4 separate regions of the Homo sapiens genome follow, and all the other regions are linked to region 1. The links come from fine-mapping of genetic effects on gene expression. A gene starts in region 1. Each other region holds a variant in brackets. All regions are shown on one strand. Distances are between the middles of the regions. Region 1 holds the start of SYNE3 (spectrin repeat containing nuclear envelope family member 3). Region 2 overlaps SYNE3 (spectrin repeat containing nuclear envelope family member 3). Region 3 overlaps SYNE3 (spectrin repeat containing nuclear envelope family member 3). Region 4 overlaps SYNE3 (spectrin repeat containing nuclear envelope family member 3).

Evidence for each region.
Region 2: its variant is fine-mapped to the expression of SYNE3 in whole blood (TOPMed, PIP above 0.99).
Region 3: its variant is fine-mapped to the expression of SYNE3 in cerebellar hemisphere (GTEx, PIP above 0.99).
Region 4: its variant is fine-mapped to the expression of SYNE3 in whole blood (TOPMed, PIP above 0.99).

Annotation. Positions count from the first base shown.
Region 1 is chr14:95,511,662-95,519,800 of GRCh38, forward strand. SYNE3 (spectrin repeat containing nuclear envelope family member 3) reads right to left here and starts at 4,989. Exons shown (of 18, transcript NM_152592.6): 1 at 4,935-4,989. SYNE3-AS1 (SYNE3 antisense RNA 1) reads left to right here and starts at 4,459. Exons shown (of 2, transcript NR_188030.1): 1 at 4,459-4,559; 2 at 5,343-6,250. RefSeq lists silencers at 4,391-4,685, 4,435-5,244 and an enhancer at 6,669-6,818.
Region 2 is chr14:95,432,295-95,440,294 of GRCh38, forward strand. SYNE3 (spectrin repeat containing nuclear envelope family member 3) reads right to left here. Exons shown (of 18, transcript NM_152592.6): 12 at 7,620-7,781; 13 at 7,318-7,490; 14 at 6,739-6,868; 15 at 4,526-4,687; 16 at 966-1,115. Among named protein-coding and RNA genes, the nearest start is that of SYNE3-AS1, 80 kb to the right of the region's middle. RefSeq lists an enhancer at 6,263-7,462. The variant G/C (reference allele first, on the strand shown) is at 4,952.
Region 3 is chr14:95,487,480-95,495,618 of GRCh38, forward strand. All of the region lies in intron 1 of SYNE3 (spectrin repeat containing nuclear envelope family member 3), which reads right to left. Among named protein-coding and RNA genes, the nearest start is that of SYNE3-AS1, 25 kb to the right of the region's middle. RefSeq lists an enhancer at 7,757-8,139. The variant T/G (reference allele first, on the strand shown) is at 3,878.
Region 4 is chr14:95,413,865-95,422,003 of GRCh38, forward strand. It overlaps SYNE3 (spectrin repeat containing nuclear envelope family member 3), which reads right to left. Exons shown (of 18, transcript NM_152592.6): 18 at 1-4,162. The coding sequence ends at 3,962. Among named protein-coding and RNA genes, the nearest start is that of LINC02292, 88 kb to the left of the region's middle. The variant T/C (reference allele first, on the strand shown) is at 3,263.

The sequences.
Region 1 (8,139 bases):
CTGAGATCACACCACTGCACTCCAGCCTGGGAGACAGAGCAAGACTCCTTCTCAAAAAATAAATAAATAAATAAATTAAATAAAATAAATAAAATGATCCTATCAGTTTAATCTCAGGTATACTTCCCGTCTCTCTCCCTGAGTGCCCTAAGGAGGAGCCTTGTGACCCAAGACTCTCACTGGTCTGTCTGTCGGGTGGTGTCTGCATGAGAGTCACACAGCTGTGGCAGCCTGGAGAGAAGTGTATTCCCTACGTGTGTGACCTCGGCCAGGACACTTCGTTTTGTTATAAAACCAGTAGATTGGTCCAGGTGACCTGAGGTTCCTTCCAGCTCAAATATTTCAGGATTTTATGATTCAGAAGCATAAATCATTAGGCCAGGACCTTTAAAAATCCTGTTGATCATCTGAGGTCATAGAGTGTTATTATTATCTTACTTGTTGTATGATTTGGGAAGACAGAGATCATGTCTCCTACATTAAAGATCGTGTCTCCTACATAAAGATTTATGACACATAAAATCATGTGTCATACAACAGAATTTTTTGCTTTATTTTTTAAATCCAGCCAGATTAACATTGGAATCTGAGGAGAGAGGCAGATTTTCTAAGAAAGCATCTGAAAATGCTCCACATGATCTTTTAATTTCATTTGTATTATGTAAGATTATATATATATAATGGAATATATGCGCCTCCTATTTGTAAATAATGAAGCATAAAAATATTTAAAAATAACGCCCTTAGCCAGGCATGGTGGCACATGCCTGTAATCCCAGCTACTCAGGAGGCTGAGGCAGAACAATGGCTTGAACCTGGGAGGTGGAGGTTGCTGTGAGCTGAGATTGTGCCACTGCACTCCAGCCTGGGCAACAGAGTGAGACTCTGTCTCAAAAAAATAAATAAATAGGCTGGGCACGGTGGCTCATGCCTGTAATCCTAGCACTTTGGGAGGCTGAGGTGGGCAGATCACGAGGTCAGGAGATCAAGACCATCCTGGCTAACACGATGAAACCCCGTCTCTACTAAAAAAAAAAATACAAAAAATTAGCCGGACGTGGTGGTGGGCGCCTGTAGTCCCAGCTACTCGGGAGGCTGAGGCAGGAGAATGGCGTAAACCCGGCAGGTGGAGCTTGCAGTGATCCGAGATCAGGCCACTGCACTCCAGCCTGGGTGACAGAGCAAGACTCTGTCTCAAAAAATAAATAAATACATACATAAAATAAATAAAAAATAACACTCACAAGCCTACCACTGGACTGAAGAAACAGAACATAATGGATCCCACTGAGAGTGAAACAGACATCTCCCTGATCAATTACCCACTTCTCCCCAAAGATAATCACCTTGATTTTGCATTATCATTCCCTTGCCTTTTTCTTTTTTAAACCAGCTTAACTTTGTGAAATAGAATCTACGTATAAAGGCATGTATAAAACATACATGTAATTAGCCAGTAACTACAAAGTGATCTCCTTTGTAACTGCCCCCCCGACTCTCCTGATCCTCTCTCACCTTTCCTCAGCACGCGTGGTAATGCTTGGCTTTTATTTAAGCTAATCACCTTCTTGCTTTTTGTCGTCATTTTACTTCTCAGCTATGTGTCACTAAACAACTCATTGCTTAGTTTGGTTGTGTTTTGAGCTTTTATAATTGCCTTAGCAGTTCTCCATGGAGATGCTAGGATTCTCTATACCACGTCTGCAGCCTAGAAACCCAGGCGAGAGATCCAGGCTGCACTCTGGTGTTACAATGATAGTAGAGGGTTAGTAATAATAAAAACCATCAGTCCTATTTATGGTGTGCCCGCACCATGCCGGGCATTCTGCTAAAGCATCATCCCCAGTTACCTCAATTATCTTCGCAGCAACCCCAAAAGGGAAGTATTTCAAGAGGTCAAAATTAGGGCATCAGCTTCCCAAACTTGTCCCCCGTCCACTTCCTAGCTTCCTAGCTGCTCAGCCCCAGAACATCATCCCTAAGTCCTAAAGCAAAGGTTCCTTTCAGGATGGGAGGGTCAGGAAACACTGCTGCTCCTGGGTTCCTATCTTTGTGGTCCAGTCAGGCTGCTTAGATTATATATATATATATATATATATATATATATATATTCAGAATCCATATTCTTTTCCAGCAAGTACTGATGACTTAATGAAGACAAGCATCCTGTCCGGTCAGTACTGTTTTCCCAGTGATGAACGTACAACTTTGTCCTTGGATTGTCTAAGATAGGCCATGTGGTGCCAGGAAGAGCATCAGGTCAAAAGCCCTTAGTTCTAATCCTGGCTGTACCACATCCAGCCGCTGGATATCAGCCTTCTCATCTGTAAATGGGCAAGCAATGACAGCCTTGCCTACTACCAGATCCTAGGAGGTGAGAGGCAGGAAGAGCTTTGGAAGACCCCACGAACACATTTGAGTCCCTCTGTAGGCTTCTCTAGAACCCTTCAGAGTTGAAAGGGGTGACCAGGAACCTGGGAAAGAGTCCCAGGGCAGCCCAGGGTTGGAGCTTCAGGGCCAAAGTGGTTAACTGAAAATATTCATTATCACCCCGCCCAGGCTGGAGTCCCCTGGCTTCCAGTTTTGAAGCAGAGGTCAGCTAGGCGGTGTAGGACACTGCTCCTGGGTTGACCAATGGGCCACATCAATGGGTCAGCTGTTTGGGGTCAAGAGCCTCCTGCCCTCCCTGGGGCCAAGGGCCAGCTTTCAGTGCTGGGAGGACCATGAGGGGGGTGAGCCAGGACTACCCACCATTGACAGACAAGGGGAAATCAAGGCAGGGAGAAGAGGGGCAGAGGCAGAGCAGAGGGGAACCCAGGTATCCCGACGAGGCCCCTTCGCCTCAAACTGTGACACCTTCTCACATGTGCTGTGTCTGACACCATACAAAATGCTGATCAGGGCAAAGCTCGTTTAGTGCTCATGAGGCCCTGCGAGGCAACACCTGCCGTGCTATGGTTAGCCCCTTTCCACGGGGAAGGACGCTGAAGCTCTGAAAGGTGAAGCAACTTTCCCAAGGCTACACAGCCAGGAACGGGCTAAGGCAGGACTGGACTCAGGCAATCCAACTTGACTGCCCCATTCCTAACAGCTGGACAATGCGGGAAGCCTAGCTGCCCAGTGGGTTCCCAAAGGCTCCAGGGTGCTTTTGACGTTGAGCTGGGCCTGCCCAGTCTTGCCTCCCGGGGCCGCCAAGCCAGGGCCCCCCGGCAGCCCGCTCCAGGCTGCATCACAAGGCAAAGGGGCTGCCCAGGCATGGCCAGGTCCATGGCTGCTGGAGAGCATGCAAAGCACCCGAGCAGGAGCCTTGTTCCCATGGAGACAGACAGAAAGGACTCCAACTCACTCTGAAGTGTACCTGCAGGGAGCCAGGTGCCAGACTGTACCTGGAGGCAGAAACCTGAGCCTGGATTCTCACCACTTCCCTCTGTGCCACCAACACATCCTCAGGCCTTCTTCTCAGGACCCCCAGCAAGACACGAGTTCCAGAAATAAGACATCCCAGCCCACTTCCCGCTCAGCCACCCCCAGAGGGGCCTCTCTGGTTGAAAACAACGCCTGGGGCCAGCAGGCTTGGCACAGCTGTGGCTGTCAGCCTGCCGAGCACCGTCCGGCCTGAGGAATGTGCAGACCCACATGTGCTGGAGCATCCCGCTGGGGCACAGTGACAGGAAACTGAGCAAAACAGCTCGTTGGCACTGATATGCCCCTCCCACCTCCCAGCTCCTGACTCCTATGGGCTGTTGGCTGCCCTGGAAGTGCAGGCGGCAAGCCCAGGCCCTTCAAGAGAGCCAGGCAGTGTGGCTCTGGGCAAATCACTCCCCCTCTCTGGGCCTGTTTCTGCTTCTCTTGGTGGATGAAGGACGCTGTCCTGCCAAGCTCAGAATGGCAGTGATTTTATGACATGCTCTCCTTTCTGGGAGGACGGTCCATTCTCCTCATGCCCTCATTCATGTGGGATGGGGCATGCCCCCAAGACACATCAAGCTATCCCACTAGCAGCCCTTGGCTGTAGAAAGCCCCCCCACCCAGTGCAGGGATAAGGGTGACCCTTCAGAGTTGAAAGGGGTGACCAGGAACCTGGGAGAGTCCCAGGAAAGCCCAGGGTTGGAGCTTCAGGGCCAAAGTGGTTAACTGAAAATATTCATTATCACCCCGCCCAGGCTGGAGGCCCCTGGCTTCCAGTTTTGAAGCAGAGGTCAGCTGGGCGGTGTAGGACACTGCTCCCGGGTTGACCAATGGGCCACATCAATGGGTCTGCTGTTTGGGGTCAAGATCCCAAGACCCCAGGGGAAGTCAACATCCATCTGAGGCTCTCTCAGGCCCTGCAAGCCATCTCTGGCCTCACTGCCCTCCCCTTTAGAAATGTGGGAATGAGGCTCAGAGAGGTTGAGCTGCTTGCCAAGTTTGCATAGCCAAAAGGCGTCTGAACGAAACTGAGCATTCGGGGTTGGACTTCCCCTCTTCGCCGCCTGCTCTGCTCTCCCAGGCACTACTGAGCGCGCTCGCGGTCGCCAGGAGCGGATTGGGCCCCCGCCGCGCGCAAGCCTTGGTGACAGGTCAGCCCGCCCCTAGGGGAGGCAGAGGGAAGCCCCGAGGAGGCACCCGGCCCGCTGGGGCGCGCTGCCCGGGGCTTTAGGGCTTTTTCTTGTGGGCCGGCCGAAGCTCCCCGGGGTTGAAAGGAAAGGCTCGGGAATTTCGCAGCCAGCACAGAACGGTTGGATTTAAACTAAAAATACCCGCCCGCCCGCAGCTGTCACGCCGGGGCCCCCGCCCCCGCGCCGGGCGCGCCTCCCCAGGTCCCCCAGACTTTCGGCGCCCCCGATTCCCGGGGCTGTGTCAGAGCTGGGCCAGGGGCTGAGGACCCCACCCGCCCGGCCCCCGGCCCCCGGCCCCCGGCCCCAGGCCTGGCCTCCCGGCCCCGTGCCACTTACCCTCCCGGAGCGTGGAGGAGCGCGGCGCCGCGGGTAGCTGGGGCCGAGCCTCCTTCCCTCCTCCCTGCGTCCCGGGCGGCTCCGGGGCGGGGCAGGGCTGGGGCGGGCCCGGACACCGCGAGTACCCCCGCCCCCGCCGGGACCCGCCCGGTGGCCCCGCGGGAGAGGCCGCGCCCCTCTCCGCACGCGCTCAGCGGAGGCCCCGGGTGCGCAACCCCAGCCCGGCGGACATCCTGCGTGGCCCCGGGGACCAGGGCCGAAGAAAAGCCTCACCGCTCCCTGTCGCGGACCCGGGGCGGGGGTTAAGGGGGGGGTCCTGTCCACGCTTGCCTGGAAAGCAGCCCGGAGCCCTGGCCCCTGTCTGTCTCCCCGACACACACACAGCCACCCACCCTCTTCTCATCCTAGGGGATGGCGCGGAGCTGCCTCTCCGGGAAAGTTGGATCTGTGCGCCCAGACATGGAAAAGGGATTAGGACACCGGCAGATCTTGCCCTCACAGAGCGGAGGTGGGGGCCTTGGAAGGGGCACACCGCCCGTAGGCGCGAAATCCAAGAAGAAAATGACACTCATCAGCCAGCCTCGCGCGGGGAGAAAGGGCGGGGTGGGGGGTAGTGGCACCCTGCCCGTCCTCTCCCACCCCCACAGTCCGGGCCCACAGTCCAGGAGTCACAAGGGATGTGAATCCCCAGGCATAATGTGAACCCCCAACAAACCCAAGGCCTCAGAATGCGCCTCACCTCTCCCTCCCCACCAGCAGAAACATCCTCCCACTCTCCCAACCCCTGCTCCAGCCACGCCAACCCTTTAACCTTGTCCCAGAATGTCTAAACTGTATCTGCCTCTGTGCCTGTGCACATGAAGTTGCCTTGGCCCGGCGTTTGCTCCACAGCCTTCTGCCAAACTCCTACTGCTTGATGGCTGGAAGCCTTCGCACCCTGGCGCTCTCCTCCCAGGTCAGCAGTCACTGGCCTTCCTGTGCATCCAGCCCAGCTTTGAACAGTCCTGGGCCCCAACCCTTATCTTTTTCCGAGTAATTACATGGTTGCATGATTGGCTTCACCGCCTCTGGATCAGATGAGCGCTACTAATGAAGGATACAAGTTGTAAAACTAGGTTTTATGTGAACTCCAGTCATCACAGTTTAGGTGCGGCTAGCGATTTTACAGATGCGGGGTTAGTAACTGGCCCAAATCCAGGGCTTCCGGGATGCTGTTTTCCTTTTTTGTTTCTTAGCAGGGATGGCAGATGTTTGTAGAACAGATCCGTGTAAAAGTCAGTATCCTAAGAGATTAAATTGTAAAGCAGGACAAGATAGTTAACGGTGTGTGTGTGTGTGTGTGTGTGTGTGTGTGTGTGTGTATGTCTTTTCCAAATTGAGAGGGAGGTAGAAGAATTAGCCAAAACCCAGGATTCACTCTGAGGTAGACCCACACCTCTTAGTTAGATCCCATTTATTAAGCTGTAATTATTCACAGCGTTGCTGAAGATATACACAGGGCCCCTCCCATCTCCCTGCGACTGACTGGTTCCAAGTATGCTATTATATGTGTTATTATCACTGTGGCTCAATTAGAAGTGCTGCCGAAGGCCTTGAGGTTGCCACAGTCAAACTGCAGGTGCAGGCAGCGAGTAACAATGATTATAATGCCTGCATCTGGATCGCGCTTTTTGCTTTTCAGAATGCTTTCAAATGTGTCTCCTCATTAAATCTCTGCAAACATCCTCCAGGTAGTTAGGAAAAGTTTAATGAGTTTTGCCTGACAAGGGAAACCAAGACACAAAGAGGGCAGGTGACTTGCACAAGGAGAGAGATGGCTCCCCCAGGCTGCTCCAAGGGTGGAGCTGGCCACTGTAACTCAATGTCCTGCAGGAAGAGATGGTTGGGTACAGTTAGGAGCTCAGGCTCTAGTGCCAAAGTGCCCAATTTGCAACTTTCAGCTGATTACTCATACTTGGTTTCCTTTTCTGTTGAATAGATCTAATAATAGGAGCTTATCTTGTATGGTTTTGTGCCTGGTATTTGAGCACCCAACTCAGGCGAGCTGTTATGTTATGGTTCTGGGAATGGTATGATTGCTACAGTTTCTGCCATACAGCTATTCAGTCTTTCGTCAAACATTCCTGAGTATCTACTATGTGCTAGTCTCTGGGAATATGAAGAAGAATGAGGCATAGACTACTACCTCCAAGGAGGTCAGGGTGTAATAATTCTGTGTCAGGGGACCATGGTGCACAGAGATGAACTGTCCCTCCTGCTGCCGGTGCAGTGCAGAGCACCAGTTCAGAGCAGTGGAGATATTCACTTTCCAGGCCCAGCTTTGCTACTTATTTAGCTGAGTGAATCTTACACTGTAAGATTCTGTTACACATACAGTGTGCACATACAGTCTAATCTTACACTGAATGTGACCTCTTACAACATTGGTTTTTCTCATCTGTTAGATGGGGATAGCAATAATTTTTCATAGGTGAAAACACATGTGATAAACATATTTTATAAAGTACAAAATACTGTGCAGATAGTTTTGTTATTATCAATGTGATTGTTATTATCTTGGGCTTTACAGGGCTTGCTGCTTTTCAGAATACTCTCCCATTCCATTGCTTTTCTTAGAGTCTCGCTCTGTCACCCAGGTTGGAGTGCAGTGGTGCAATCTTGACTCACTGCAACCTCCTCTCAGATTCAAGCAACTCTTGTGCCTCGGCCACTTGAATAGCTGGGTCTACAGGCACACACCACCACACCCAGCTAATTTTTTGTATTTTTAGTAGCGACAGCATTTCACCATGTTGGCCAGGCTGGTCTCGAACTCCTGACCTCAAGATATCTGCCTGCTTGGCCTCCCAAAGTGCTGGAATTACAGGTGTGAGCCACCATGCCCGGCCATCCATTACTTTTCTTAAGCCTGACATAAACATCACATCAAAAACAGAACCCTATTTTTTATTTGATGCCAATCTTTTTCTCTCCAAAGTAGTCCACATGGAAGGAAAACAAAAGTTGAGTAAGCAATGCGAAGGGATGGGGCAGTTTACAACTAGGAAGTCCACAATACCTTCGTCTTCAGCATTACCTGCAGCTACATAAGGGGGTGGACATGAAAACCCATCTGGAAAAAAAAATCTGGCAAAGGATTGGGGGAAGAGCCCCTTTGTCATCTCTGGAATTGAACACAGGAAACCCCGCCCTGAGACCTTCCTTT
Region 2 (8,000 bases), 79 kb before region 1:
ACACACTTCAGGCCCAGCTGGGATTCTGTCTGGAAAGGCCGTGGCCAAGGCCGGCGGGGGCCATGGCCAACCTGGCTTGGGCTGGGCTGACACCTAGTGGCCGTCTCGGCTGCTCCCGGGCCAGGAAAGCCTGGGGCGCCCAGCTTGGGGCTGGGGTCTGAGGCTGAAAGGGCCCTTAAGGGCCAGCTCACCACCCTCCTCAGACTTAGGGACCTAGGAAACTTAATGTCCGTGCCTCAGTTTCCTCATTGGTTCACAGGGCATATAACAGCACCTCCTTTAAAGGGCTGTTATAAGGACATAGCATTGAGCAAAGGTTATGATCATTACTAGTTTTGCTATTATTATTATTATTATTATTATTATTATTATTATTATTATTATTTGGTGTGAGGAGACACAGGGGCCCCCGAAAAGGAAGGTGCTTGCTCAACTAAGACACAGGGCAAGTTAGAGACATGGGGCTGGACCCCAGGGCTCCTGATGCCACTCCAGTGCTTCCCCAGGTCACGCCTACAACACACGGGTGTGTCTGCAGGCTGGCTCTGCCACTGACCACCCACGCGGCCTCGGGCAAGGTTTTTCACTGCTTGGAGTCTCAGCTCCCCTCTGCAGTCTGGAGATACAATGACTTGAGCAGAGGGGAACCGTACAGACTGAATGGGACGGTGCACACAGGGCCCTCGGCTTGGGAGATAGGAAGCACTCCTTACACATTAATTATGAGGTCACTGCTGTCCTGACTGGGACTTCAGCCTCATGAGGTGGTTGGATGGCCAAATGGCGTCACCTAAGTGCCCAGAACCCATGAGTGTCCCTGTCCTCTGCCTGAGTGGTCACCACTGTCTGGTGTGTGAATGCACAGGGCAGGGTGGATGCAGGCTTAGCACTGTATCCCCAGGCAAATACGGCCCAGCTATAGTCCTGTCCCTGGAATCTGGGACCTGCACATCCTTGGCACCTACCAGCAGGTGGCCAGAGTCCTTCAGCTTGGACTTGTACAGCATCCACTGGTAGCGCAGATCTTCCAGCTCATCCGAGGTCCCCCTTGCTGGCCCGAGACGAAGGAGGTTCTCAAAGAGATGCTGACCTTCTGGCACCCGAGCCTCCAGCTCCTGGGGGAAACAGCAGCGTCATGGTGCGGCTTCCAAATGGCCCAGACAGCCCCACCTGAATGGTAAGGATGGGTCCATCAAATTTCACTTGACAGACAGGTAGGCAGGGAGGAGGCAGACAGAATCCATAAAGTGGGACTCCCATCTGTGCAATTCAAGCCAAGGCCTAGCCCTTGCTCTCAGGAATGCTACAGGATGGCCTCCTGCATGGAACGGGCAGCTGGGCTGCAGACCTCCAGTGGTCACTTCCAAATATGACATTCCAGGACCAAGTCCTCCAGAGGGCTTGACTAGAGTTCGCATCATTCTAAAAGCTGTCATTGTGAACATGTCTTTCTGTTAGCATTTTGAGCCTGGCAGAATGGTGTTTTAATGTGCAGATTTTTCTCAGGAAATAGAAGTACTGTGTTCCCTTGGGATGGAAACTTTTATTCTCAGGACTCCTGAGAGGTGGTGTGATGGGGCAGTAGGAGCGGGGCTATAAATCCGGGAGCCCAGTTTTAAATCCTGGCTTTGGATCCTGGCTCTGCCCCATTCTACTAGCATGTAATATGGGACACCTTGCTTAGCTTCTCAGAGCCCACAGGAATGTATGCTGTACAAAAAGCAAGGGGGTTTAACTTGAGGAACGGAAAGTCATTTCTGATATGGCTGGAGTTGGGTGGTGGTGCGGTGGGGGGAATGAGAGGAGTAGCCAGATATGAGACAGGAGAGGCAGGCAAGGAAGATTTCCAGGTAATGGCCAACTAGATAATTGGGACCAAACCTCCCACTAAGGACAAAATATTTAAAGCATTTTAAAGGCATAAAAGTATTAACAAAAGAATGTGAGGCACACCGGGCCACAACTTGGGAAAGAATGAAAACCCAGGGCAGTCAGTGCTGTGTTCAGATCTGCTTTTGCCCACAGAACATTTGCCAATTTGGAAGGAATAGCTGTAAAACATCTTTGCTTTTGGCAGCCTCACTGGGCTGGGGAGACAAAGGCCAAAGTCTGGGGCCTGCAGAGGTAGAGATTCTGATAGGGTTCATTCACCCTTTTGCTGAGCTCCTAAAGCCTTCACCCTATTAAAAATGAACCAGAAGTAAACCTGGACCTTGTGTAGACTTGCAGCCCAGTTCAAAGTCATCTTAGTAGACCAGGGAAACTCAAGCCTTGAACTTGGATTTAGTGGTCCCAGAATGAAAGGTCCCTACTCGCCTGGCAGTAGCAAATAAAATCAACTCTGGAGGAAAAGATTATCCTAAATCTTTTTTTTCTTTTTGAGACAGAGTTTCGCTCTTGTTGCCCAGGCTGGAGTGCAATGGCGCGATCTCGGCTCACCGCAACCTCTGCCTCCCAGGTTCAAGCAATTCTCCTGCCTTAGCCTCCCGAATAGCTGGGATTACAGGCATGCACCACCATGCCCAGCTAATTTTGTATTTTCAGTAGAAACGTGGTTTCTCCATGTTGAGGCTGGTCTCGAACTCCTGACCTCAGGTGATCCACCCGCCTCAGCCTCCCAAAGTGCGGGGATTACAGGCGTGAGCCACCGTGCCCTGCCTATCCTAAATCTTAAATCCCTCTTATACATATTTTGGCAAACACAATGTCTAGCACACAAAGCAGCCACATGAAGACACAAGAAACCAAGAGTAAGAACAGGCAGAAATAATATACAACAGAAACATTCATAAAATGCCTTGAGATGTTAGAATTATTAGATACAATCTGTAAAAAGCTATGTTTACTATGTTCAAATAATTAAAAGATAGGTTTAAAAATTTCAGCAAGTATCTGGAAGGTATGAAAAATGATAGAGTTTCAGTTAAGACAGGAGCTATAAAATAAGAAAAAAAAAAGATAAGAAAAATGATAGAGTAGATTATTAAAAGCACCAAATAGAAGTTCTAGAACTGATAACTGCAACAACCAAAGTTAAGAACTCAGTAGACACGTGTAACAGAAGATGAAACACAGCTAAAGAGAGAATTAGTAAACTGAAAGATGAATCAGAAAAACTATCCAGAATGCAAAACGAAGAGAGAAAAGGATGAAAAATACACAGGAGAGAGTAAGAGACATAAAGCACACAGTGAGAAGTAGTTACATATGTTTAAATGATATCACAGTAGGAGAGGAGAAAGGGAACAAGGCAGAGGTGATATTTTAAGAAAGATTGTTAGTAGAAAAAAATACAAGTAACAAGTTTGGGAATTAAGAGAAAAAAAAATAAGGTTAGAGAGTTTTCCAGAAAGATCCTAGACCACAGATTCGGGAGTTAAAATGAATCCCAACCCAGATAAATAAAAAGAAATTCAAACCTAAACATATCATGGTAAGATTGCATAAAAATAGGGAAACAGAAGTGAGCTAGGGCCTGGTTGAGAATGGCCTTGAATAATAAACTCAGGGGTTAAACTCTATAGTGAAAGGTTTTCATTAGGGGGAGGACAGGGTCATATTTGTTATTCTGGCTGCAGGATGAGCCATGACCTAGATGGGACCCAACAGGAAGAAAGGAGGATCAGCTGGGAGGCTACAGCCATAGTCAAGGCCAAAAATGGTAAGTGCCTAAATTAAGACAATGGTAGTGCGAGGGAAGAGAAACACAAAATATCTAGGAGGTGGAATCAAGGAGCTTTAGCAACTGATTAGATGTGGGAGTGAAGAAGACAGGAGAGAAGTAGTAGTTCAGTTGCAAAAATGGCTGTGACTTTCCCCATCTCCCTCCCCCCAGCCATATCCATACCCACTGCAATATGACTTTGCCATCCCTTCCATCAAGTAGTGGAGTCTCTTTCCCTTTCCTTGACTCTAGGCTGGTTTTGGCAAACAGAATGCAGGGGAATTAATGTTATGCTGGCTCCTAGTCTTGACCTCAAAAGTCCTTGCCTGCTGCTATTGCTCTTTTCTGCCCTGCCTCTGCTATGAGAAGTCCAAGCTGTGCCACAGGAGTATACGAGATGTGTAGTCCATGTCATTCTCATCTCTAATAGCCCACCAGCCCCTAGAAGTAGAGACACCCAACTGACCTACAACTGACAGCAGACGGACTGGAGGCACTGCCCGGTTGAGTTCAGCCTAACCTGCCATGCTTCTGAACCATGGGTTAAATACATAGTTATTGTTATCAGCCACAAACTGTTGGGATGGTGTGTCACACAGCAATAGCTAAGTGACAGGAGTCAAGTGATTAGTGGTGATATTTTCCAAGTAGGGAACTACATAAGCATGCTGAACACACGAATGAATGCCAGAAAAAGTTCTAAAATCTTTGAACCAAAAAAGTTTAAAAGCGATTATCTATACACAAGGGAGAACAGCTCACAAACTGTGGGTGTGTTCCTTCTTTTGAAGAACTCCCTGGTGGCAAATGCCTCTGTGGGTGCAAACCTTATGGATGAGGGACCTTTCCTGGGGAACAGACCTGCAGCTTCGATTTTCTGGTCCTCAAGTCCTCAGCTGTAGAAGTTCTCATTGCGATGATTCTAACCAGCTTGGAGTTTTCCACCTGCAACCACTGCCCAAAGTTCCTCAGGAGCTGGGAGAAATCTTCATGGCTCCCTTCTTCTTCCTGTAGAAGATTTGCCTGTAGGATCACACACGGCCAAAGCGTCAGAGGTGAAAGAGCCCCCCTGGCCATGTGTCCTGGGAATTCCACCTGAGGCAGAGGGGCAGGGACCAGGACAAGATGCCCAAAATGGCGACGGGAGAGGCCTGGGGGATGAACAATGAATCTCTACTCAACATGGTCACATTTAAGGGCCAAGAACATTCCTCACTGTCCCCTTTCTGGTCCCCTGAGAGGTGACGGAAGCCACCACCATCTCTTACCAGGATGGCTATACAAATA[G/C]TCACCCTTCCACCATGCTTGCCCCCTCGGGGCTCCATGACCGGAGTGCTCTGTCTATGATGCAAGCCCATTCAGCTAACTTCTTGGTTATCCACATTGGTGCCTCTCACTACTCCCCAGTGTGACCCGGGAGTCTTGGTTCCACTGCGCATGCTGTCTTCCCTGTCCTCTGAGCCTGGGCCTGCAGATGTGTCTTGGCCCCTCAAACTGGCACTCGAATTTCTCCCTCTGCTCTTCACACATACTGTCTCCTCTGTGGGGAACACACCTCTCTCCCTCCTCTCCTCACTGCCACTCAGCCGTGAAAATTCAGCTGAGATGTCTTATCTTCCAGGAGAGGCTTCCCGGTCCTGGACCTAGGAACTGCTGCAGGCTCCCATAGCCTCTGGCCTGTCTGCCAAGGTGCACCATGTTTTTTTTGTTTGTTTGTTTTTTGTTTTTTGTAAATCCTTATTTAACAGCCTGTGGATGCCACTCCCTTGCTTCTTTCTTTTCAACAAAGCTCAGTTTGTTTAAAGGCAGTAAGGGAAAGTGATGGGTAAAACAATGTAGTTAGTTCTTTTTTTTTTCTTTTATAAAATATAGTCATGGCACAAAAATAGACCCATCTTGTATGATTTTAGTTTCCATTCTGGGGCCAGCAGGAAGTGTTCGGCCCCGATGCTCTCTCCCTTGCAGGTGCTACTGCTAGTGGCTCACAGAGGTGAGTATCTCCCGGGCCCAGCAGCATGGGCCTATCCCGAGAGCTTGTTAGAAATGCAGAATCGAATTGTGGGCCCTAGCCAGATCTACTAACTCAGAGTCTGCATTTTATCTTATTTCATTATTTTTTGTTGATTGATTGATTGATTGAAATGGGGTCTTGCTTTGTCACCAGGCTGGAGTGCAGTGGCACAATCACAGCTCCCTGCAGCCTCAAACTCCTGGGCTCAAGTGATCCTCCCACCTCAGGCCCCTGAGTAGCTGGAACTACAGGAGCACACCACCATGTCCAGTTAATTTTTAAATATTTTTTATAGAAATGGGGTCTTGCTATCTTGCCCAGGCTTGTCTCAAACTCCTGACCTCAAGCAATCCTCCTGCCTTGGCCTCCCAGCCTCCCAAAGTTCTGAGATTGTAGGTGTAGCTCACCATACCCAGCCCAGAACCTGCATTTTAATACAAGGCTGTGTGCCCACTGAAAAGCTCTATGCCGGATTCCAAATTCTCTGAGGGTCAGAAGCGTTACTCACGGCTGTATCCTAGCTCTGAGCACAGTTCTTGGAACAAAGTAGCACTCAGCAAATGGAGGAGTGGATGAAAGAATGAATGGGAAAATGAATAATTTGATGTATTTGAATAACAAGGAATAACTTTCTTTTCCACAAAGCTCAAGTTTGTTTAGAGGCAGTAAGGGATGGATGAAACATGGCAGAAAAGTTTTCCCATCTTGTATGGTTTCGGTTTCCAATCTGGGGCCAGCAGGAAGCTTTCAGCCCCGACACTCTCTTCCCTGCAGGAGCTGCTGCTAGTGGCTCACAGAGGTGAGTATCTGACTGGCTAAGGGATACCCCTACTGCCCTGGTGGCCTGGCTCTGCAGACTCTGGGATCTCTGAGGTCCTCTGTGGAGTAGGATCAAATGCTCTTTGGCCACAGCTGGGGCAGGCTCAAATGAGACAGGACGTGGCCAAGTCCTCAGAGCAGAGCATGTTGCCCCAGACAGGGAGGGGCCTGTGCTGGAGACCCCTACCCACCTCTTGACCTGGGGCCTGGCCCCTTCTCCCACAGCCCTGCTAGACAGACTCACGCGTCGACGATGCCTGGGAATAGGATCCATGGGATTGATGAGAAATCCTGACTTTGGGATGTTGTTGGTGAAAACCATTTTCTTCCCCGAATCCACTTCCATCCTCTGCAGATGCCAGTTTCTGATGAGGCTGAGAAGACAAACTCAGCCCAGTCAATGCAGAGATGTGGTGGGGACCCACCAGGACATGGGAAAAGTAATAGAATTGGGGAACCACGGGTCACGAGTCAGTGCCCCCCACTGAAGTTTGTGAGAATGTTCCTGAGGCATGCTCACATCCGGTTTCTGACTTTAAACTCAGAGTAACCTGTCATGAACGTGCGTACGCCCATAGATGCAGATGGGGAAACTGAGGCTCAAGCCAGTATAGACTGGAGGCTAACTCCCAAGACGGGGACATTTCCTGGCTCCTCCTGCTCCTGCTAGAATAGCCAACTGGGCCAAAGTGTGAAGGTGCCCACGGCCCCTGGCTCCACACTGGGCAGCACCCTGGCCCTCTGCTCCACGAGCACCTGAGTGTCCCTGAGTGAGAAGGGGCAGTGTCCCAGACAACGCTCAGAGCCTAGGAGGCACTCTCACCTCAGCAGACTTTCTTCCAGCAGCCTCAAGGCCCGCCACGACTCTGCCAGCTCCCTGAGCTCCTCCTGCACCACGGCAGCACCCTCCGGAGAAGACTTCTCCATCACCAGCCAGCCCTGCGCTTCCACCAGGGACAGCTGGGCCTCCTTCTCCGGGAATTCTGCCACCAGCCTCTAAAGGACACACGGACACACAGACACACACACGGTGAGGGTGGAGGGAGGTTTCTGCTCCTTGGTGTGGGAACGTTGGCCTGTCAAGGCTGCTTCTTTGGGAAGTGGGTGAGGGAACCACCGCCTTACCTCAAACTCGGCCTCTTGGGACTCGGCATCCCCCGGGCCCGCCTCTCCCCGGTGTGCCTCCAGCTTTTGCGTGGTCACAACGATCCACTGCCGCAGCTCCAGCAGCTGGTGGCTGAAGGTGCAGTGCTCCTGCACACTCTGCCGACACCTGTCCACAAGGTCCTGCAGCACAGCCCGGGGAGCCCAGGGCATCCTGAGTGCTGGCCGAGGGGGAGACCCCCGCACCACCCCCACCCTGCAGGGCTCTCACACCCGCTGGGGACCCCAGGGCTCCCCACCAAGTAGCACCACAAGAGGCTGGGCTGGCCCTTCCCTCCACACAGCACAAGGAATTTACCCTTGGAAGATCAAATCTGGTTTAAAGCCTATCTTACTTTTAGG
Region 3 (8,139 bases), 24 kb before region 1:
GGGGTTTGTCATGTTCATCTTCCTGACTGATCGGCTGGAGATTGGAGCTGCCATTATTTTAAACCACCTTCTTGGGGGTATAATTGGTAAATAAGACACTTCACATATTTCAGCTGCACAGTTTGATAAGTTTTAGATATACACCTATAAAGCCAACACCCGTCCATAAAATGAACATACCCGCCTCCCCTTTAAGCTCCCTGGCTGGTTTTGTAATTCCCACCTCCCACCTACACCCTCTCCCAGCCACCACTGATCTGCTGACTGTCGTTGTAGATTTGTTTGCATTTCCTAGAGTTTTGTACATGAATGGAATGGGATGACACAGAAAATACAGGTGACCCCTGAACAACACAGATTTGAACTGTGTGGGTCCCCTCATACACAGATGTCTTCTGCCCCTGCCACCCTCGAGACAGCAAGACCAACCCCTCCTCTTCCTCCTCCTCCTCCTCCTCAGCCTACTCAACATCAGGACGATAAGGATGAAGAACTTTATGATGACCCACTTCCACTTCATAAACAGTAAATACATTTTCTCTTTCTTATGATTTTCTTAATATCATTTTCTTTTCTCTAGCTTACTTTATTGTAAGAATATAGTATGTAATATATACAACATACAAAGTATGTATTAATCAACTTTATGTTATCAGTAAGGCTTCCAGTCAACAGTAGCTATTAGCAGTTAAGTTTTGGGGGATTCAAAAGTTAGACTTAAATTTTCAAGTGTGCAAGGGCCTGGTACCCCTAACCCCTGCAATGTGCAAGGGTCAACTGTACTCTTTTTAGAGAGAGGGGTCTGATTTTTTCACTCAGGATGGTTATTTTGAGATTCATCCATGTCGTTGCCTGTATCAGTGGTTTGTTCCTTTTTGTTACTGAGTACTATTCCATAGCATTCCTGTGCCACAGATTGTGGATTCATGCACCCACGGATGGATAGTTTCCAACAAAGCTGTGATGAATACTTGTGTGTGCACATATGCTTTCATTTCTCTTGTGTAAATACCTAGGAGTGGAATGGCTGGATCACATGGTAGGTGTATATTTAAGAAACTGCCAAGGCCAGGCGTGGTGGCTCACACCTGTGATCCCAGCACTCTGGGAGGCCAAGGTGAGAGGATCACTTGAGCCCAGGAGTTTGAGATGAGCCTGGGCAACACATGGAGATCCTGTTTCATAAAAGAGGGGTGGGGTGGGGAGGGAAGGGGAAGGGAGGAGAGGAGAGGAGAGGAGAGGAGAGGAGAGGAGAGGAGAGGAGAGGAGAGGAGGGACTGCAAAACTGTTTTCCAAAGTGGCTGCACCTCTTTACATACCCAGCAGCCATGTGTGAATTCCAATTCCTGCACGGCCTTGACAACACTGTACGGTCAGTCTTTTCATCTTAGCCCTTCTGGTAGCATGTCATGCTGGCTCACTGTGGCTTGCATTTCTCACTGGTTTTGGCATTTGTGGTGTAGGACGGCCTAACTGAGCTCCCAGACTCTGTGCTGAGCACTTCCCAGGGATCTCCTCCTTGAAAGCTCCTTGGTGTGCTGAGCACCGGGCCTGCTGGCTGATGGCTAAGGGGGTGAGCAGCTGAGTGACTGAGTGACAAAGACACTTGGCCAACAGGGACCTGCTCCAATTCTCAGGGTGCTGCCAGCCAACTCCCTGCAGGCAACTCTCTGAGGACAGAACCAAGCACCATGAAGCAACAGCCAAAGCCAGTAAAAGCAGAAGACAAATGGAGTCACCCACAGGTGCATGGGGCTTTCTGAGCTCCCCAGCAGCACATCCATGGGGCCTCTCTCCCATCTCCTACAGGTCCCAGACAGATTCCTGTGTAGGGCCTGGAATTTCTGAACAACTCATGCAGCTGCCAGGGGTTCTCCTGGAATAAGGATTGAAAATCAACAACTTTTGAGTTCAGGGACCTGAATCCAGTCCAACTCCTCTGAACTCTGAGCCTTTTGTTCTCATTTGAACATAAACTGCCTCTGGGCACAGCCCTTGCCTATTTTGATCACAACACGTGGCACTTACTGACACACAGTAAGTGCTCACACACATTTGTGAATGAAAGATACATCTGGAAAATATAAACTACAATACCTACCTCGGTTGGTGCTTAGTAGGTACTCAGAAAGTGTTCTTTTATTTGATTATTTTTAGAGACAGGGTCTTGCTATGTTGCCCAGGCTGGTCTCAAACTTTCTAGGCCCAAGATTTCTGCCTCAGCCTCCCAAGTAGCTGGGACTACAGTCACGAGCCACCATGCCTGGCTTATTTTTTTTTGAAAAGAAAGAAGTGTGGAGCCAGGATGGACATCTCTCTGCCCTCATTAGTCCTTGATTTCACATGCTGCTGGCTCAGGGGAACTGAGAAAGGCAGGAATCAGAGGCAAGAGTGGGCCTCAGCACAGACTCTGTAACCCCAAAATAAGAGGCTTCCTTCAGGCCACGAGTGGGGGCAGAACAGGCTCTGGAATGGGGTTAGGAGTCATGGTTCCAGCGTGGGCTCCACCGCCAACTTGCTCCCAAACCCCAGTTTCCTCAATGGTCAGAGTGGAGCAATAGTTCACACCTGACTTCCACCCACTCTGAGACGAGTGAGCTTTAAGTTGGAAGGTTGTTGTGAAGGACAAGGCAACGTCCGATTCACCTTGGGGCTTTTTCTAACGGAATCAGTTAGTAAGGGAAATACACGCTGCTGAGAGGCCCTGCCCTATCCCAATGTAAAGGACTATCACCGTCATCTCTTGTTCTGGCAAGCTAAAGGCTAATTATACCATATTTCCATGTTATAACGCATAATAGCCATGGGCTATAACCGATTATGGCATGCACAGCAGTCTGGAGTAAATGCTATATTGTTCCAAGCTATAATTCCAACCTGTAACAGCTGGAGACCTTGGCAGGAGCTAGCTCTGTGCCCAGCTATTTTCTACAGCACCATACAGGGCTTCAGAAGCAAACATCCTATCAGGTAGATGCCATGGCCAGCCCTTTATTACAGATAGGAAACAAGGCACAGAGATATTAAATAACTTTCCCAAAAGCATGCAGAGCCAAGATTGAACTTCAGGCAGGCCAGCTGCAGAGGCTTCCTGTTACCCTGAACTATACTGAGCTTGTAGACAAGTGTCCAGCAAGCCCCTGGTCAGCATGCTGAGGCTGGCTGCAGAGCCAAAGGTGTAAGTCAAGTAAGAGCTGCTGCTGGTTGGTGGGTGAAAGAGCTATGAAGAGTTCCCCATGGTGGCCTGACTCCACAGCTCAACCTGACACTCTTCAGATATGGCCCAGGGCAAGTGTTCACCACATGGGCCAGGCCTGTGGCCCTATCGGCAAAGCCATGCATTGCCATCCACCTTCTCACACCTGCAGGCTGTGGCACGCAGTACCAGCCAGCATGCCCCACTCAGCTCTGCATCATCCGTTGATATGTCTACCTTCCCATTAGAATGTCCCGCTCAAGGGCAGAGGCTATGTCTCATCCCCTCTGTATCCTCAGGCCTGGGACACAGCTGGCACAGAGGAGGAGGGCAGTGCTGCTTATTCAATAAATACACACAACATCAACTTCTTGGAAAGGCAGGACTGGCTGTTCTTGGGGCCAGGTCAGGGTAGGGAGTTGCTGGAACTGCCCCCAGATTTTAGGCTGGCTCTAGATCTCGGGTTGCGGGGTAAGCCTCACGGGATGACAGGACATTCCAGTGAGCCAATGAAAGATTCTGTGGAAACCTCCCTGCAGGTAACATGTGACAGTTGGACTTGTCCTTCGGAATTCTCTTATCTAGCTGTGCCGTTTTATGGATGAGGAGACTTAGTGAAGGAAGTAGACCCGCCCAAGATCTGGCAGCAGCTCAGTGTAGAGTGATGGCCAAGACCTATCT[T/G]GTGCCTCTGAGAAGGATCATTCTATTTCTTCAAAATGACTCACAGAGAAAGAAACAATCAACCCTTGTATTTACAGACAGTTAATTTTCAACAAGGGTGCCAAGACAATTCAATGGAAAAGGATAATCTTTTCAACAGTGGTGATGGGACAACTGGATATCCACATGAAAAAGAATGAGATTAGACTCTTACATCACACCGTATACTAAAATTAACTCCAAATAGATCAAAGACCTACACGTAAGAGCCAAAGCTACAAAACTCTGAAGAAGAAAACATACGCATCAATCTTCCTGACCTTGGAATACGCAATGGTTTCTTAGATGTGATAGCAAAGGCACAGCAACAAAATAAAAAAATAGATAAATTAGGCATCATCAAAATTAAAACTTTTGTACTTCAAAGGCAAAAATGTTAAAAAAAAAAAAAAAAGTGACACCATCAAGAAAGTGAAAAGATGTCCCACAGAATGGAACAAAATTTTTGCAAATCACATATCCGATAAGGGACTTACATCTAGAAAATCCAAAGAACTCTTAAAACTCAATAATAAACAGACAACCCAATTATAAAATAGGCAAATGATTTGAATAGACATTTCTTTAAATCATACCTACATCTAAGATGGCCAATGAGCACACTGAGAAGCCCAGAAAGCACAGAAAAGATTCTCAACATCACTAGCCATCAGGGAAATGCAAATTAAAACCAAAATGGGATACTAATTCACACCCATTAGAATAGCTATAATCAAAGGAAGATAATAACCAGTGTTGGTGAAGATGTAGGGAAGTTGGAACCCTTATATGCTGCTGGTAGAAACAGAAAATGGTGCAGTGACTTTGGAAAACAGCCTGGTAGTTCTTCAAATATTAAACATAGAGCTTCCATCAGATCCAGCAATTCTACTCTTACATATATACTCAAGAGAAATGAAAACATATGTCCACACAAAAACTTGTGCACAAATGTTCATGATAGCCAAAAAAAGTGGGAGCAACCCAAATGTCCATCAACTGATAAATGGATAAGGAAATCGTGGTCTATCCATACAATGGAATATTATTCACCTGTGAAAAAGAATGAAGTGCTGACATATGCCACAATATAGAGAAACCTTGGAAACGTTGTGCTAAATGAAAGAAGCCAGTCACAAAGGTCCCATGTATTGTATGATTTCATTGATGTGAAATGTGTAGAACAGGCAAATTTACAGAGGCAGAAAGTAGATTAGTGGTTTCCTAGGGCTAGGGAGGTGGGAGGGTTGGGAGTTGACTGTGAAGGAGTGCAGGGGTTCTGTTGGAGGTAGTAAGAATATTCTAAAAATGATTGTGGTGACGGCTGTACAGCTCTGTGAATATACTAAGAGGCATTGAGGGTAGGCGAGGTGGCTCATGCCTGTAATCCCTACACTTTGGGAGGCCGAGGTGGGAGGACTGCTTGAGGCCAGGAGTTTGAGACCACCCTGGCCAACACAGTAAGAACCTGGCTCTATTTTTTTTTAAAGCACTGAATTGTACACTTTAAATGGGTGAATTGTATATTATATGAATTATATCTCAATAAAGCTGTTTTTTAAAACATCAGCATCCCAAAACTAGGAGGGCCATTAAAACTGACCTAATCTAATCAACCATCTCTGCTTGAATTTCCTTAAAAATACACCCACCAAAGGCTGCCAAGATTCTTGAACACCTTCAGTGATGGGTGGCTCACTGCCTTCTTCAGGCAGCCTATTCTGTTGTTACATAGCTCAGGCTCAAAGGAAGTTTTTCCTTCCAGGAAGCTAAAACCTGTACCTTATAAATGGGGTGCCAATGTAAAGGAAGCTAAGAAGCTGCTTGAGACCTTTTTTTCCAAATGGAGAACAGTACGTTCCATTTACTGAGCAGGTATTAGGTGCTAGTCAATATGCCCCTCCCTCTCCAAGCATTTATTAATGCACTTGCTTTTTAAGACAACTTTAATGGTTGGTATAATCATCCCCGTATCAGAGATAAGGAAACTGAGGCTCAGAGAGGTGAGATAACTTGAGTATAAAATTTCAGAACTGGTTTTGCCCAGGAGGCAGAGCTGGAATTTGAACCTAGGTGTATTGAACTCCGGAGCTGCAGCTGTCCCAGCTGCTGAGCCAGACTGCTTCTGAGAGCCTGACACCATTTCAGCATCCCTATGGGTCTTATAGACCTTATATAAATGACATGAAATTTTTGAATCAAACAACAGAACAAACAGAAAAAAACTCTGCCTCCCAAAAGAGATGCTGAATGCAGCCCCATGGGATGGGCAAAATGCCTGCCTGGGAGAAGAGGGGTGGCCACCAGTGGCTGCATCGCTGTGGGAAGCCAGCCGCCACGGACAGCCTTAGAGGAAAATAAAGCTGAGTGATGCCCTCAGGGGCATACAAATAGCCTTGAGCGCCAGGGTTCTCAACCCAACAGCCCATCATTTGGTGTTTGGAATTCCGGTGAGGAATAAACTCCCCCTGTGAAAGCTACTCAATCCAATTCAATAGCATTTGTTGAGATAATTTTTTTTTAATTTTATACTTGAAAGGTAGGTCTTAATATTCATTCCTGTTTTATAGATGAGAATACTGAAGCTGAGCAGTTTCATGGCCTGCCCAAGATTCCAGAGATAGTAGCTGGGAGGCGAGAATTCAAATCTAACACCATTTAGCCAGGTGTGGTGGTGCCTGCCTGCAATCCCAGCTACTCAGGAGGCTGAGGTAGAAGGAGTTTGAAGCCAGCCTGGGCAACAAAGTGAGACCCCTGACTCTTAAAAAAAAGAAAAAAAAAAGACCATTTGACTTCCACATCCAGATGTGCCTGGCGCGGTGCCACTAGGGCCTATAGGTTTCAAGCTCGGGTTCTCCAGATCACAAGCTCTAAATGAGAGTGCTATGGGTGTTAAATGCAGAGGCACAGAGCCTAGAGAAAGGAGCAATGATTCTTATGAAGATTCCAGGAGAGGCTCATAGAGGAAGGGATACCCTGGCTGGGATGTGAAGGATGAGCAGGGTCTGAATAAGATGAGAAGTGGGAAAGGGCATAACGAGTGGATGGACTGGCGAGACCAAAAGCTGGGAGATGGGGAAGTGCAAGGCCAAGTTCAGGCTGCAGGATGGGTTTGGCAATTGTTAACAAAGAGAGACGGGAGGAGGCCATACTGGAGAGCAGGCTGAGGGGACTGAACAGCACAGGATTCCAAAGGGTTGTGTGGGTTTTACTCTGTGGGCAATAGGGAGCCAGTGAGGGTTTGTGAGCAAGAGAGTGGCACAGCCTACTCAGTGACAGGACCCACAAGCAGTCAGGGCAGCATCTGCTCAATGGTGTGAAAACCACACTGGACCAAGCAGGGCCCTTGCAACAGGGCACCTTAAGTCACATGCTAGGAAATGCCTTGTAAGGTGCCGTTTAACCCTAAGGCATCCTATTTATTGTAAACCTGCTCTTCAAAAAAAAGGCCATGGGTGCTGGGCGCCGTGGCTCATGCCTGTAATCCCAGCACTTTGGGAGGCTGAGGTGTGTGGATCGCCTGAGGTCAGGCGTTCGAGCCAGCCTGGCCAGCATGGTGAAACCCCGTCTCTACTAAAAATACAAAAATCAGTTGGGCGTGGTGGCAGGCACCTGTAATCCCAGCTATTCAGGAAGCTGAGGCAGGAGAATCGCTTGAACCTGGGAGGCGGAGGTTGCAGTGAGCCGAGATCATGCCATTGCACTCCAGCCTGGGCAACAGAGCGAGACTCAGTCTCAAAAAAAAAAAGAAAGAAAAGAAAAGAAAGAAAAAAAAGGCCATGGGTTCAGATAGAAGGGTCTTTTCTCAAGAACTGATTAAGCTTGCCAATGTCTAATGAACTGTGAGAGCAGCCTCCATTCCTTCCAAGAGTGTCTGTGCCCAGTCTGTCCTTACAGTCCTTTTCCCAGCAAAATGCCCAGCCGGGCCCACCTTGGACAATGCTGTTTGACAGTTAAGGAGTCTCCTGCCTGCTGCTACCCTGTCTCCTGCTCTGGGTTCATCTGCGACCCTATGATTGTCCTGGTAGGTGTCAAGGTTATCACTGGGTCTTGATCTTAGGGTGCCAAAGGAGACTCCTGTTGGTTGGGTAAAATGTTATCAAATGCTACTCACAATGGCAATAGTTCCCATGGGTGAGGCCTGCTGTGTGCCAGGCACTGGGCAGACACCATGAAGGCCCCCATCAACCTTCAAATCAGGGGTCATCGTGCTGCCTGACAGATGGGGAAACTGAAGCTGGCTC
Region 4 (8,139 bases), 98 kb before region 1:
CTGAAGCTCTTATCCTGTGCTGGGCATTGGGGGTGTGGAGTTCTGTCATTCATGACCGAGGACCTCATCATGAGACATTAGAGGGGCTCATCTTCCAGGTGAGCAATGTGAAGATAATGATAGATGGCCCAAGGGAATGTGCTGCTGGTGGTGACTCATCTCAGAGCTGAGGGCAGTCCCTCAGGGAAACATTTGGATGCTCCGCTCTGGCCATGTCCCAGGCGAGCTGATGGGCAGAGAGTTCTGCCTGCTTGCCCAGGGAACTCCATTCCCAGAGGCTACAGAGACTGCAACCTGGTAGAACCAGCCTGAAGCCCCCCTCCAGCCTGGGCTTTGGGGTCCTCATTGCCCCATGTTGTGGGTTTGGACCCACTTCAGCATGAGCAAGGGTCTTTATATCTTTAAGCCTCAGGGTTCCATCTCAAACATGGGGGTAAAACAGTATCAAACCCTGGGGGCAGGTGTCGATGTGGGAATTACATAAAGCAAGGCTGCAAAGTGCCGCCCAAGGGGCTCAAGCACCCACGAGCACCAAACGAGCACATTCTTTGTCTCCCTTGTCGGTGTTCCCTCTGTCCCGCCACCACTGGGCACCTCCCAGGGTCTCCTCGCCTCGTCTGCTGTCAGTACCTGCCCATCCCTCCCGCTCCCAGCTTTTCTTTTTAAACACCCTCTGGGTGCTGCATGTGCCTTTCCACATGCAGAGAACGGGCTAAGAAAGAAAGGGGTGGGAGGGACAGGTAAGCAGGGATAACTAATTCATCAACCGACCCACTGGTGGTCCTTTCTCCCTCCTCTCCTTCCCTCCTCTCTCTCTCTCTGACACACACACACACACACACACACACACACACACACACACACACACGCCACAGCGCCACCTTTCTCAAGTAGCACCTTAAAGCTCTGCATGGCTGTTAAAGAGGCTGGAAACTAAAGTCATAAGAATAATTGCCTGGCTCTCCTTTAAGCAAAGGAGATTGCACTTGTGCTTGGAAGCACCAGTAACTGGGCTGTTACGTTATATTACAAGTATATTTATATGAAAATACTGAAAATATCAATTCTTTTTTAAAAAACAGTTATGCAAACAAACAGACTTGATGGCATCATTATCAAAATTTAAAAAATATAGGTAGATATTCCCACCCCCGCCCGCATGTTCCAGCTTCTCCTTCCCCAACATGTGGTATATGTGACAGGCTGCATACATGCCCAGTGGCTGTTTTTTTCATGTAGTTGCTGACATGAGCGGATCATACCACAATGAGCAGGGTACCACCTGAGGGCCATGGTGGCCAGTTGGGCTCTGGCCTTGCTGCCTCTCACTGTGTGGCCATGGATCAGTTTCTTCCCCATTCTGGGCCTCAGCTTTCTCACCTGTGACATAGGAAAGTGGACACCTGGCAAGGCCCCCCCACCCACCCACCCTGCCACTGCTCTGACTTCCAGGACTGGACATCTGGGCTTGGCTGCCTGGGCTCACTCAGCTCCTGATTTTCCAGTAAGGTGGTCGCCTGCAGAGAACGGCCCTATGGCTTGGTTTCCAGATATCTGGAGAAAAGTGTGCTTTCTCTTCTTCCATGAAATCACAAATTTCTCTAGATATTTGGAAACCAAGTCACAGGGTTGTAGGATCTACTTTTTGAACTTTTCATCCCCTGTAGTTGCCAATTCTGCATGTACTAGTCTTGTAGAAATAAGTTAAACTGAAGCAGCTTGAGGGAAGGAACTTGATGGAAGGATGGAGAGTCTACAGGGCTTGTTTTCCAAAGAAAAGTGTTGTTTGGAGGAGCATAATTATAAGCCTACAGCTTATCATAAAGCTATTCAAAAAAAAAAAAAAATGGCCAGGCATGGTGGCTCATGCCTGTAATCCCAGTGCTTTGGGACGCTGAGGTGGGCGGATCACCTGAGGTCAGGAGTTCGAGACCAGCCTGGCCAACATGGTAAAACCCTAACTCTACTAAAAATACAAAAATTAGCTGGGCATGGTGGCAGATGCCTGTAATCCCAGCTATTTGGGAGGCTGAAGCAGGAGAATCGCTTGAATCTGGGAGGCGGAGGTTGCAGTGAGCCGAGATCGCACCACTGCACTCCAGCCTGGGCAAAAAGAGCGAAACTCCATCTCAAAATAATTATAATAACAATAATAATAATAACTCAGAGCCAGGCTTGTGGATGGAAATATAGTGCCCAAGTCACATTCTGCTTAAAGTTGTAACAAATACAGACGAGTTAAAAGAAAAAAAAAAGTACGCTTTCTGAGTCAGCCCCAAGGGCTCTCCTTGGCAGCACGGGTTTCCTGCCGGTGAAATGTCCTAGTTGCCTAGGACCCGGGTCCCCAAGGGCAGAGCTCACAGTGAAAGGCAAAGGGTCAGTGTGTGTGAGACAGCAATGGTGCTGGGTATCAGGCCCTCTTAGGTCCTCAGTTTCCCCTCTACTTAAAGGGCCTTTCTGGGTCTATAATACCTTATGATTCCAAAGCCGGACAGAAGGTCCGAGGAAATCCCCTCGTATTTGTAGTTGAACAGACAAAATCCATTTGTAGAGAGTGGGCATTAAGTACTTTTTTAAAGGGGAAAATTTAGTGTTGATTTAGGAAAAACATGATCCAGTTGTAGAGCACTTAGGAACCATCCCAGAGTTCCCTGGCAAGGAAGGGATGAGTTTCTGGCCTCGGGAACTCACATGGAGTCACCGCGGCCCCAGCCCAGGTGGTGCATGGAGCCCAGCTCGCCTACACCTGGCTGGAGAGGGCCTGGTTTTGGGTGGCCTGGGCCCTAGTCCCATATGGGGATGCACATGAGACCTTCTTGGCCCCATAGACCTGCTGTCTCCAGAGTCTTTTCTGGGAAGCGGAAGGAGAGCCCTTGAGACAGGCTGAACTCCAAAGCAGATTCTCTCACCTCTGTCCTGGACCCTCGATCCCTGGCCCCTGGCGTGGCAGATGCTTCCCTTCTCACCTGCAGCTCGAGCTCTCGACGATGAAAACTCAGTCCAGGAGCAACAGAGGAAACACATCTTTCCTGGGCACTGCCAGTGGGTGCTGCCCACCGAGTGTGCCTCACCATTCTGCATGGAAATCTTAAAAATCAAGCTTGTCTTCTTCCCTTTCTCCCTGAATGAAACACACAGAGCAGGATCTCACCGTTTCATGGGGGCTCGGTGTCATCACCAGGGACAGTCCTCATAGGTCTGTGTGATCAGAAGCCGCTGAGAGCTGGGGTTAGGGCTCCGGCATGCAATGCCTCCACACAGC[T/C]GTGCTTTCTTAGTTCGGGGATCTGCTCTCTGCAGCTCTTCTTTTTCTCCCTCGATATCACTCTGTCACTTGTCACTGCTATCATTGAACCTGCCTCTGGTCATTGCCATTTCTACTTCTGACACGTGGCAGCTACTCTTTGTGGTTGTTAAAACTAGACAAGCATACTTGTTCTCATTACGCATAAAGCAAGAGTCGCTGGGCACCAAGTGAGGGTCTATGGCGCTCTTCCACGTTGCAGCTCAGAGGCCTTTCATTACATCTGAATTCTGGGATTCGCTTTGGAGAAGAGGTTGCCATGAAAGTGACATGTTATTGTTCTTGCTTTCTAGGGTTGACTGCAGACCAAGTCAACAATACCACAAAATCCCATTGGAGGGAGCCATTGCTAGGAATTTTCCCAACTCCAAATAGAACTCGTATATGAAATTATACATACTGAGCATTTACATACAGATCATATAAAAATTCTAGACATTATTCCCTAGTCACATGTAGTACACATTTAGTATAAATAGACTAAGACAACACTGTATAAAAAGTAAGTGTCTTCTGGGAACGCTGACACAGCACTGATATGGATGCAGCTCTGCAGTCTTTGCCCTGCCCCTGTTTCCAGTTTCCCTGGCGAGCATCCTCAGGAGGGGCCCTGGGACTGATGGAGGTTGGAGGAGAAAGTCACCTGTGTGCCCCAGTGGGTTAGGTGGGTGGTGGGCCATTGTAGCGCAGCATGAGCGTGAAGGAGCGGGCGAAGTTGTTGGCCAGGGTGCAGCTGCGGTCCTCTTCCCTGATTGGGAGCAGGAACAGCAGGAGGAGGAACAGCAGCAGAAGCAGCTGCAGTGGGAGCGCCACACAGCACGCCCTCCGGAAGAGGGAGCCCAGTCCTCGCCACCGCCGAGTCTGCGGAACCAACACAGCACAGGTGAGTGGGCTGGGGGGCTCTGGTGGTGGGGGGCAGGTTCAGGGGGCGAGGAGGATGCCAGGAGCGGTGGTAGCACTGAACTGACTGTATGACAGTACACATCTCCAGGTTCTCATCTGTGAAACAGGGCTAATGTAAGTTTTAACAGAAACAGGGTTTCTGCAGTTTTCCCAAAGCATTCAAGGCATGAAAGGAAGAATAGAAAACACAGTTGCAGGCTCTGCCATTGTGACATATATCTTTGCCTGGTGTAGCAGAGTGCTGGCTGTGAATCCTAAGGTCACTTGACTTCTCTGAATCTCTAGTTTCTCATCTTCAGATGGGGCAATAATGGCACCTACATGACAGAATTGTCATGAGGATCCAATGAGGCAGAGCCTGGCACATAGTAAGTATGTACCAGCTGCTGTCATGATTAGTATGCATCCTTAATATTTCACCATCTAAATCTTCGTCATCACCATCATCACCAGCATCAAATTTATCATCGTCACTTTCTTCCTCCTCTTGTCTTTCTTCCCTTTCCTCTTTTTCCTCCCCCTCTTCCTTTTCTTTCTTTCTTTTTTTTCCTTTGAGATGGAGTCTCGCTCTGTCGCCCAGGCTGGAGTTCAGTGGTGTGATCTCAGCTCACTGCACCCTCCACCTCCCAGGTTCAATCAATTATCTCCCTCAGCCTCCCGGGTAGCTGGGATTACAGGCACCTGCCACCATGCCCAGCTAATTGTTTTGTATTTTTAGTAGAGATGGGGTTTCACCATGTTGGCCATGCTGGTCTTGAATCCTGACCTCGTGATCCACCCTCCTTGGCCTCCCAAAGTGCTGGGATTATAGGTGTGAGCCACCGCGCCTGGCCCCTCTCTTCTTTTCCTCCCTCTTTCCTTCCCTCTTCTCCCTCTCTTCCTCCTCCTCCTTTTATTTCATCATCAATTTCATCACCATCACTATTGCCATCAGTATCACATGAAGGTTAGTCTCACAAGTCCAAATGCCTAATGGACTTCTCTGCTACAATGTCCCTGAAAGTGGCCAAGAAAACATTTCCTAAGTTCTGGAGGGACTGGCCAGGTTGTGGCTTCATGGATGTCTGACTGCCAAGGAGTGCAGGGGCAAGAGCTGGTCACTCAGAAGAGTGAGGCCCTCATGGTCAAGATGCTGCAGAGTGCAGGACGAGCCCAGCTTTTAGGATCCTAGCAGACTGGGTCCCCACCCAGACTCTGTTACTCAACAGCTATGTGACCTTGGGCAAATCAATATTGGATCCTCTGTTATCTGCTCTGCAAAATGGGGATCAAACACCTACCCCTATTTGCTGGGCTGTGGTGAGGGCTCAAAGCAAAGGTATATATATACCTTGATTGATAAATGTACCAGTTCTTACTATTAGTACTATTAATACTTATTTATAATAATAGTGCTAGCACTATTAGTAACTGTTAGTGACATTCATCACTATTAATATTAGTAATCATAGCACTAGTACTATTATTATAGAATATATCTGCTGGCTCCCTAAAGAACCAAGGTTCACCCTCCAGGGCACCAAAAGCCACAGTCCCGTGATGATGATAGTGATAGTGACCATGGCGATGGAGGTGATGGCAATGATGGCAGTGATGCTTGATGATGGTGGTGATGCGATAATGATCATGACGCTAATGGTGGTGGGGTGGGGGTGGGGTGGTGAGAGTAAGGTGGTGATGATGGTGATAATGATCATGGAAATGGTGATAATGGTGATGATCATGGTGACTGTGATGGTGATGGTAAGTGTGAGTGATAGAGATGATGATGGTGATGGTGATGATGGTGATGGAGGTGATGGTGATGGTGATGATGATGATAGTGATGGTGGTGGTGGTAGTGATGGTGAGGGTGATGATGGTGATGAAGAAGCACTGTTAAATGTAAATGTTCCTGGGAGGTTCTAACCTGGGCAGTTCTGTCTCTCTACCTCTCCTCTCTGAGTCAACTCATGTATTCCCCTGCTCCAAGTATCCCCTCCAGATGATAACGCTTAACCCTGTGCCTCCAGTCTCAAATGTGTTCACTCACCAAAGTCTTTAGACACTGATTTTATAAAACAGGCTGATTATAACCATGAATAAGTACTCTTGGCTGCATGTATTTCAGCAGTGACTTCGGGAGTGGAGGGTGGGGGTGGGTGACACATTGTTTAAGCGGCTGAATGAGTGTGAGTTCACAGAGAAGGTGGTTCTTCCCATAGCTGCTGGGTTGGGTGGGGCCAAATCTCTGACCCATGAGACCCACCCAGGGAGAGAGAAAAGGGGCAAGACAATGAGCTGGAGGGCCACCCAGCCTGGGTTTCCACTGCAACTAACAACCTGTAATTAAGGTTCTCCCAAATGGAGGGTCTGCTTACAAGTGTCCTTTTTTATTTGCCCCTTCATTCTCAGAGTTAACACTTTGCTTATTCAAGAGAGGGGCTGTGCCTTGGCCATGATCCTCTGGGGAAAATGTCTTTGAAGGTCCAAAAAGTGTTTATACATACAAGTGTTGACAAGGGATGGTCTTCTCAAAGGATTCCTGCTGCCTGCCCAGTGCCTGTTTACTTAGACCTCACGTCCTCACTTAGAGGGCCCTGGATTCCAAAATGCTCTTAAAAATAAGACACCTTTCAATATGTTTCCCAAATGCTTAGGAAAACACACACACACACACATACACACACACACAGACACACACATACACACAACCTTCTAAGAAGCCAACAAGAAAAATGACAATCTTGGCTCTTCCAAAGAGAGAAGGGGCTTCCTCAGGAAGTTATAAGCTCCCTATCTGGTATGGTTTGGTTGTGTCCCCACCCAAATCTCATCTTGAATTATAGTTCCTATAATTCCCATGTGTTATGGGAGGGACCCAGTGGGAGATAATTGAATCATGGGGGCAGTTTCCCTCATACTGTTCTCATGGTAGTGAATAAGTCTCGCAAGATCTGATGGTTTTATAAGGGGTTTCCCCTTTCACTTGGCTCCCATTCTCTCTTGTCTGCTGCCATGTAAGATGTGCCTTTCTTCTTCTGCCATAATTGTGAGGCCTCCCCAGCCACGTGGAACTGTGAGTTCATTAAACCTCTTTTTCTTTATAAATTACCCAGTCTCGGGTATGTCTTTATCAGCAGCATGAAAACGGACTAATACATCATCCCTGAAGGTAGGGAAGCAGGGGTTGATGAGCCCATGGGGGTGGGGAGGGAGTATATGTTGTGTAGAGGAGTTAACATACCCAACAGAGGCTCTGACCAAGAGTCCTCCAAGGTCTTACATGATGAATCTGAGACTCCAGATTTCTGGGGATCGCAGGCTAGAGTTCATCACAGTCCATGAGACCTAATCTTCTACCATTGGTGAAAGGGGATGTGGGGGAAATATAAGGTTTGGAGTCTTGGGTTCTAACCCTGACTCTACCACGTCCTAGATGTGTGATCTAGGGCATGTCACTTAGCCTCTCAGAGCCTCAGTTTCTTCTCTGTTGGGAGAGAGTGATACTTGCCTACCAATGTAGGAAGGATAAATGAGGCCACGCATGCTATGCATAAAGTGCACAGTAGGCACCCAATAAAGGCTCACTTCCTTTCTCCTCTGGCTGATGGGTGTGGGGCAGAGAGGCAGCTCCTGCAAGCCCCACAAGCTTCCCCTCTGCCAGGGATGCAGGGATTAGGCACCATCATCACCTCCAGTCCCATCAGGGAAGAAAGCACTGCCCTCCTTAAACGCTATCTCTCAGCTCCTTAAAGACCCTCACGTCCTATCGCCACAGGGCCTTTGCACAGGCTGTCCCGTGTGTCTGGAATGCTCATTGCCCTTCTTTCTCCACTCCACCTGGTTAGCGCTGACTGATCACTCTAATCTCACCCTGAGTCACTTCCTCCAGGAGACCCTCCCTGGCCTTACACATCCTCAGGGCACCCTTTCTTCTGGATCACTGATTAAGA